Homo sapiens: one gene and its partner. The protein of the gene in region 1 purifies or fractionates together with the protein of each later gene. This does not show direct contact. Each region holds a gene or a part of one and is shown on either strand. Other genes may lie near its edges.

Region 1 (3,672 bases):
CCTAAAAAAATTTTTTCAGCCAGGCGCGGTGGCTCATGCCTGTAATCCCAGCACTTTGGGAGGCCAAGGCGGGTAGATCATCTGAGGTCAGGAGTTTGAGACCAGCCTGGACAACATGGTGAAACCCCGTTTCCACTAAAAATACAAAAATTAACCGGGCGTGCTGGCACGCACCTGTAATCCCAGCTACTTGGGAGGCTAAGGCAGGAGAACTGCTTGAACCCGGGAGGCAGAGGTTGCAGTGAGCCAAGATCGCGCCACTGCACTTCAGCCTGCGCAACAGAGCAAGACTCCATCTAGGAAAAAAAAAAATTTTTTTTCAACTATATTTTACCAATTAAAGAGTCATAAAATAGGCTGGGTGCAATGGTTCAGACCTATAATCGCAGTGCTTTGGGAGGCTGAGGCGGGAGGATTACTTGAGCCCAGGAGTTCAAGACAAGCCTGGACAACATAGCGAGACTCTGTCTCTAAAATAATAATAATAGGCTGGGCACACTGGCTCACATCTGTAATCCCAGCACTTTGGGAGGCCAAGGTGGGCAGATCACTTGAGGCCAGGAGTTCAAGACCAGCCTGGCCAACATGGCAAAACCCCATCTCTACTAAAAATTACAAAAATTAGCCAGGCATGGTGGTGCACGCCTGTAATCCCAGCTACTTGGGAGGCTGAGGCACGAGAACTGCTTGAACACAGGAGGTAAAGGTTGCAGTGAGCCGAAATCACACCACTGCAGTCCAGCCTGAGCAACAGAGCGAGACTCAGCTAAAAAAAAAAAAAAAAAATTAATAAGAAGAAGAAAAAGAAAAAAAAGAAATAAAATATCTAAATGACATTGCCAGATCTAGGCTAAGTCTGGTTTGTTTTTTTAGGGGGAAGAGGGAAGGCAGAAAATAGATTCATTCATTGCAAAACAAATGAAGCATAGGAAATAATGCATATTCTCTTATTAAAAAAAAAATTATTTGGCTGGGTGTGGTAGCTCACATCTGTAACACCAGCACTTTGGGAGGCCAAGGTGGGAGGATTGTTTGAAGCCAGGAGTTCGAGACCAGCCTGGCCTATGAGACCCTTTCTGCATAAACAATTTTTTTTTTAAATTAAAACGAGTGTGGTATGCACCTGCAGTCCCAGCTACTCAGGAGGGTGAGGCAAGAGGATCCCTTGAGCCCAAGTGTTTCAGGCTGCAGTGAGCTATGATCACACCACTGCACTCCAGCCTGGGCAACAAAGTGAGACCCTATCTCTTAAAAAAAAAAAAAAAAGGTTTTGAAGAGTTTCTTTAATGTAAGTCAGTGTAGGCCAGGTGTGGTGGCTCAGGCCTGTAATCCCAGCACTTTGGGAGGCTGAGGTGAGCGGGATCACCTGAGGTCAGGAGTTTGAGACCAGCCTAACCAACATGGAGAAACCTCGTCTCTACCAAAAATACAGAATTAGCTGGGCATGGTGGCGCATGCCTGTAATCCCAGCTACTCAGGAGGCTGAGGCAGAAGAATCGCTTGAACCCAGGAGGCGGAGGTTGCAGTGAGCCGAGATCGCTCCACTGCACTCCAGCCTGGGCAATAAGAGCAAAACTCAGTCTCAAAAAAAAAAAATATATATATATATATGTCAGTGTTGAGTCTAATAAAGATGTTCCTAATAAGGAAAACTTTAAGTATACAACAAATACTTTCTAAATTATCAGACTGGAGTTTTCTAAAAATGGAACACATCTATATTTCATTACCTCAATCAAATTATTTAATAAAATCAAAACTATAAAAGGTTGGCCAGGAGTGGTGGCTCAGGCCTCTAATTAGGATTACATTTTGGGAGGCTGAGATGGGCAGATCACTTAAGGTCAGGGGTTCAAGACCAGCCTGGCCAACATGGTGAAACCCTGTCTCTACTAAAAATACAAAAAGAATTAGCCAGGTTTCATGGCGCACGCCGGTAATCCCAGCTACTCGGGAGGCTGAGGCAAGAGAATCGCTTGAACCCAGGAGGCAGAGGTTGCAGTGAGCTGAGATCGTGCCACTGCACTCCAGCCTGGCAAAAGAGTGAGACTCCATCTCAAAAAAAAAAAAAATTTTTTTTTGTTATGCATATCATAAAAGAGGCACTCTTTCTGGCTCTAGACTCACTGCTATAATGCTTTAGATAAATAATGCAAAAGTTCCAAGGAGGTTCAGTACTAAAGCACCCACACTAAGCTACAATCCTTAGCAGGAGTTATTTGAAAAGATAGTTCCAGCCGGGCATGGTGGCTGACGCCTGTAAAACCAGCACTTTGGGTGGCTGAGAAAGGAGGATCCTTTGAACCCAGGAGTTTGAGACCAGCCTGGACAAAATAGTGAGACCCTACCTCACTTAACAATACTGAAGAAAAAAAAATTAGCCGGGCGTAGTCATGCCTGTAGTCCCAGCTACTCAGGGGGCTGAGGTGGGAGGACTGCTTGAGCCTAGGATGTGGAAGCTGCAGTGAGCCATGATCACACCACTGTACCCCAAACTAAGTGACAGAGAAAGACCCTGAAAAAGTTCCTTTCAAAAGAAAGGGGGTGAACTTGTTAAAAGTCTTCATTAGCTACTGACTTGATCCACAATTTATTTTTCTAGTAACAATAAAATTCCGACTTGCTTAGGTAGCAAAATAAGAAACTACACAAAAAGATAGTAAGGCCAAAAAAGATTGTATAGTATTCAGAATGGACAGAAGAAACTATCTTTGCCCATCCTACATCTATATGGCCCAAAACTAAGAATCACGTGGATTGGCGATATTAAATAAGCGAAAGCAGGATGAATAAAAAAATTCTGTGAAATACAGGTCTCACAAATCTCCAATGCAGATCCTGTGGGTAAGAGACAAGAGCCAACTATTTCAGGGTGAAAAAGATCAGTTAGAAACCTATTAATATATAAAAGTTAAAGGAATTACAGTATGAAAAATGTAAAGAATGACTGGCAGTCCCACTGCCTTCACGAATGACTATGCCAAAAAGGGAAAAGAGTTTAACTTGAAAATAAATTATACTAAATGTTCAAGGACTAACATTTAATAAGGGAGAAGAGTGATATGGTAGGGAAAGCTTTGTGCCAACTTTCAACTGCAGCTGTAGTGAAATACACTAAAAGCCTTGTCTTAAGACAAAAGCAGTAAAATAAAAACAATGGTTTTAAACATATCCCCAGTGTCAACTGCTCATGACCATAAATTTGCCTTTTTCTAATGAACAACTAATGGGATAAAAGGCCATATAAGGGAAAAAGTAGTCGAAAATACAATCGAACAAACTTCTCACACAAGACTAAACCATAAAACCTGTTTACAAATTTTCATACATGTCAGAATTAAAGGTAAAAACACTCAAAGCTTAAGAAATCTAACATCACAAAGCACGAGATTAAATCATTCTTTTAAACAAGGACTGAAGTTCAGAAGCATTTAATTTAAATCAGTGTATTAACACAAGGAATCCTTCCATACTTCCTATTTCAGAGAGGGTTCTCCACACTCCTTTCCCAGACTTATGCACAAATATTACAACTTGCAACCCATTATTTTCTCTCATGTACAAGTTTTGTTTTGTTTTGTTTTGTTTGCTCTTGTTTTTAACTTTATTGGAGTGAGATTATTCTAACTAGTACCCATTTATTTATTTTAAATATCGGTTGTACCAAACAAT
Region 2 (3,672 bases), on another chromosome or scaffold:
GGCCCCACCCCTGCCCCACCTGGCTGGCAGACCCACAAAGGTGCATGCTCAAGCACCTCCATTCCTTCCACTTCAGAGCAGGATTAGAGGCCTTCCTGTACATTAACTGTTTGCATGCAACAGGGAGACAAATTATTTCCCACTGACATGACGAGCCACCTTCAGAATTTGAAATACGAGATTTCCCTCACACAGGAGGAAGTCTGGCATTGAGAGCAAACGTTTCCAACGGCGAAGTGACTTTTCCACTCAAGTCAGGCGACTGCCGGTGTCTACAAGCACTCAGTCGCCCAGGAGTGAACAGAAGCAGCTACCTGGGGGGCCTGGGGGTCCACCAGCTCCTGCAGACTGGCCAGGTGACAGCAGTGCAGCTGGCGGCCGCTCCTGTACTCCCAGAGCCTCAGGGTGCCGTCCTGCACAAACCAAACACACAGGTTAGCACATGGTTGTGGGGCTTCCGTCAGGTAGGGTGACAGAGAGGACAGCTGCGTGTGGTCGGGGTTCCACTCCGTGACAGCCATGCCACCCACCCTCAGGAATTAAAGGCTCTCTGCTCTGACTGTGTAAATCGCTCATGCAAATCATCAAGGACAACGGTGGGGAACGGAAGGTGACCGATTCCCTGTTTCTCGAGTGCCAATATGCCCAGGCAGATGACAAAGCCAATGAGGCAGATCCTAGCAAAATAAGCCAAGGCCGCTAGATGGCCAGGTTGTCATCCGCCAGGAGGCCAGACCACATCTGCTGTGCCCGGGCCGGGCATAGACACGGGCATGCACACAGGTCTGCGCAGACACTTCAGCAATCATGCATTCCCACGGGGAGACACGTGTGGGCTCATGAGCTCGTGGCCACTGCTCCACTTCACTAAGAATGACAGGAAGGACATGGCCATCAGCAACCGTCCCACGACAACTGGTACAACCCTTCAGGAAGCCGACACAGGAACCAAGAGGCTCCACGCTCTAAAACCATCATCAATGGAAAAAAGCGTTTCTCTTTTTTTTCTTGGTTTTATCTGTTGTTATTTTTTTGTTGTTTAATTGAAATGGGGTCTATTCCACACTGCCCACTGCACTGCAGTGGCTATTCACAGGCTTGCTCCTGGCTCACTGCAGCCTCTGACTCCCAGGCCCAGGCAATCCTCCCGCCTCAGCCTCCGAGTAGCTGGGACTACAGGCATGAGCCACCATACCTGGCTTAAAAAAAATTCATTACAGCACTAATTCAGTGGAGAGAAATAAATCAATACTCATTAAATCTAATGAGAGAGTGTCTGTGCACTATTTGTAAGTATTTTTAAATGACTAAATGAAAAAGATGAAAAGTAAATACCCCAAACAGCTAACAGTAGATGCATATCCTCTGGGTGCCGAGGTAAGAGTGGATGTATGAATGCACACACACACGCATGCACATACACACGCACACACACACACCTTTCTACAAATGTGGCAGATAAACATGGAGACCAACACACACATCTACAGGCATTTCACTCACCCCCAAACCTCTCTACGAAGACAAGAAAAAGATGTTTAATAACCATGAACCCACTAAGACAAAGACAACAGGCAAGAAGAGAAGGCAGCCGCGGAGAGACAGCAAGGAAACCTGGGGGCTGGAGGCCAGGGAACAAATGCACCAGCCACAGAGAAGCCCGAGAGGTGCCAGGACCTGCCAAAGACCAAACCGGGCCAGGCAGCCTGAAGACCAAGGTGGTGAGGGGAGCTGTCAAATGTCTTTACAAAGAGAAACGGGACCTCCCTGATGCATCCTCAGCCCCAAACTCCAGGCCAGCAGAAGGCTCTGGGGAAACGGAGCCGAGGGGCCCCTGTCTCGGGGATGCCAAATACTCACTGAGAAGAGAGTCACCTAGCCCCTTCGCACTCACCTCCCAGAGCCCCAGGGGACAGACCTGGGCAAGAGTGAAGGCCGGGACACTGACCACCCAGAAGAGACCGACTGACCCACACGTTCTACGGAGTCCACAGGCAAGGGGCTGCTGCCCACAGACACCTGCTCTGAAGCCCCTCGGGCCCCACCCTGGGTGCACACACCCAGCCTCTGAGGCCGGCTGGTGCTGACTCCCATCACACACAGGCAGATGGCATCGCCAGACATCCGAGGAAAACCTCCAATGAGAAAGGCAGACAACACACTCCAGAGAAGGCAATCAAACACAAGGCCAGGAAGAAATTGAAGAAAGAAAAGTCCACGCTCATCTCAGTGAGATAAGAGACACGTGCACTATCCGAGAATGGGTGGCTGCAAAAAAGAACGTGCCGAGGGCAAGAAAGAACTAAAGATTCAAAATAATCCTAATAAAACTCAAGTCTCCACAGAAGGCTGGAAAGTAAAGTTGAGGCAATCTCCCAAGAAGTAAGACTATTCCTAAAGGAGTAGAAATACGAGATTGAACAGGAAAGAAAAAAAAACAGAGAATTATGGCCCAGCATGGTGGCTCTCGCCTATAATCCCAGTGGGCGGAAGTGGGTGGATCGCTTGAGGTCAAAAGTTTGAGACCAGCCTGGCCAAGCTGGCAAAACCCCATCACTACAAAAGTATAAAAAATTAGCGGGGCATGGTGGTGTGTGCCTGTAATACTAGCTACTCGGGAGGCCTGAGGTGGGAGGATTGCTTGAGCCCGGGAGGCAGAGGCTGCAGTGAACCGAGATCACGCCACTGCACTCCAGACTGGGAGACAGAGCAAGACTCTGTCTCAAAAAAAATAAGAATCAGAGCATTAAAGTGGTTCAACTAACACAAGCTTTAGAAAAAGTGAGCAAGAGGCAGGGGTAGAGAACAGAAGGTAATCATGTAAGAAAATGCCCCAGGTCGGAGGACACTGAAAATCACTGGCTGTGTGGCCAACTCCCCTCTGGGGCCCACCAAGTCACCTCAGTGGCTTTCACATCGCACACTGGAGCAGAGAAAGTCCTCCAGGCAGAAGGAGAGCCCAGCTGTCACCCCACGGACCCACGGCAGACAGCTGCAGGTTTCTACAGGAAGCGCGCGGGAAAACCCACAGGAGCAACCAGCTGGAGAGCACACTGTGCAAGGCCTCCCAAGCTCCGAGGGAAACCGTTTCAACCAGGACTTCTACGCCAAACTAACAACCAGGCCTCAAAGGAGATTAAAGGTATTTCCAGAAAAGCAAAGTCAGAAAACACTGACCCTCCTCGCGCCTTTTGGCAGCTACCAGATGACGTGTTCCACTCAAACAAAGCAGTAAGCCATGAGGGACAGATGGGGCCTGGGGAGGCTTCTCTGCCCGTGGAAGATTTTCCTCATATTATGAAAAAGACTGGAAGGTGCACAACAAACCGCTGACGAAGCCTGACCCTGACCCTGACCCTCTGGAGATTATGGCCACACTTTTCTTCTTCTCTCAGGTCGCGTGGCTGTGTGTTAATTTGAAGAGCAGGAACAGGAGGCTGTGAATGAAGCCCAATCAGAGAAGAAACATAGAAGCGGCCAGAAGGTCCATCAGCCATCCTGCCACACCACACAAAGGACCAACACAGACAACACAGGGAAGGACAGCGAAGAGGAAGGTGGTGGTGTGCGGGCAACAATTCCGCAAGAGGACAGAATCAGACCCTGTGAGGAATCCAAGGCCCTCACTTTGGCAAAATCACTAACAATCCTTCTAACACATTCCTTAGAGAA

Evidence for each region. The genes of interacting proteins can lie anywhere in the genome.
Region 2: the proteins of UBE2R2 (region 1) and WDR4 fractionate together in Homo sapiens (co-fractionation; one large-scale study listed by BioGRID). This does not show direct contact.

Annotation. Positions count from the first base shown.
Region 1 is NC_000009.12:33,820,021-33,823,692, reverse strand, and holds part of UBE2R2 (ubiquitin-conjugating enzyme E2 R2), read right to left. Parts: intron 1-3,672. UniProt on the Homo sapiens protein: E2 ubiquitin-conjugating enzyme that accepts ubiquitin from an E1 ubiquitin-activating protein, and catalyzes its covalent attachment to other proteins by an E3 ubiquitin-protein ligase complex.
Region 2 is NC_000021.9:42,855,368-42,859,039, forward strand, and holds part of WDR4 (tRNA (guanine-N(7)-)-methyltransferase non-catalytic subunit WDR4), read right to left. Parts: intron 414-3,672; coding exon 315-413; intron 1-314. UniProt on the Homo sapiens protein: Non-catalytic component of the METTL1-WDR4 methyltransferase complex required for the formation of N(7)-methylguanine in a subset of RNA species, such as tRNAs, mRNAs and microRNAs (miRNAs).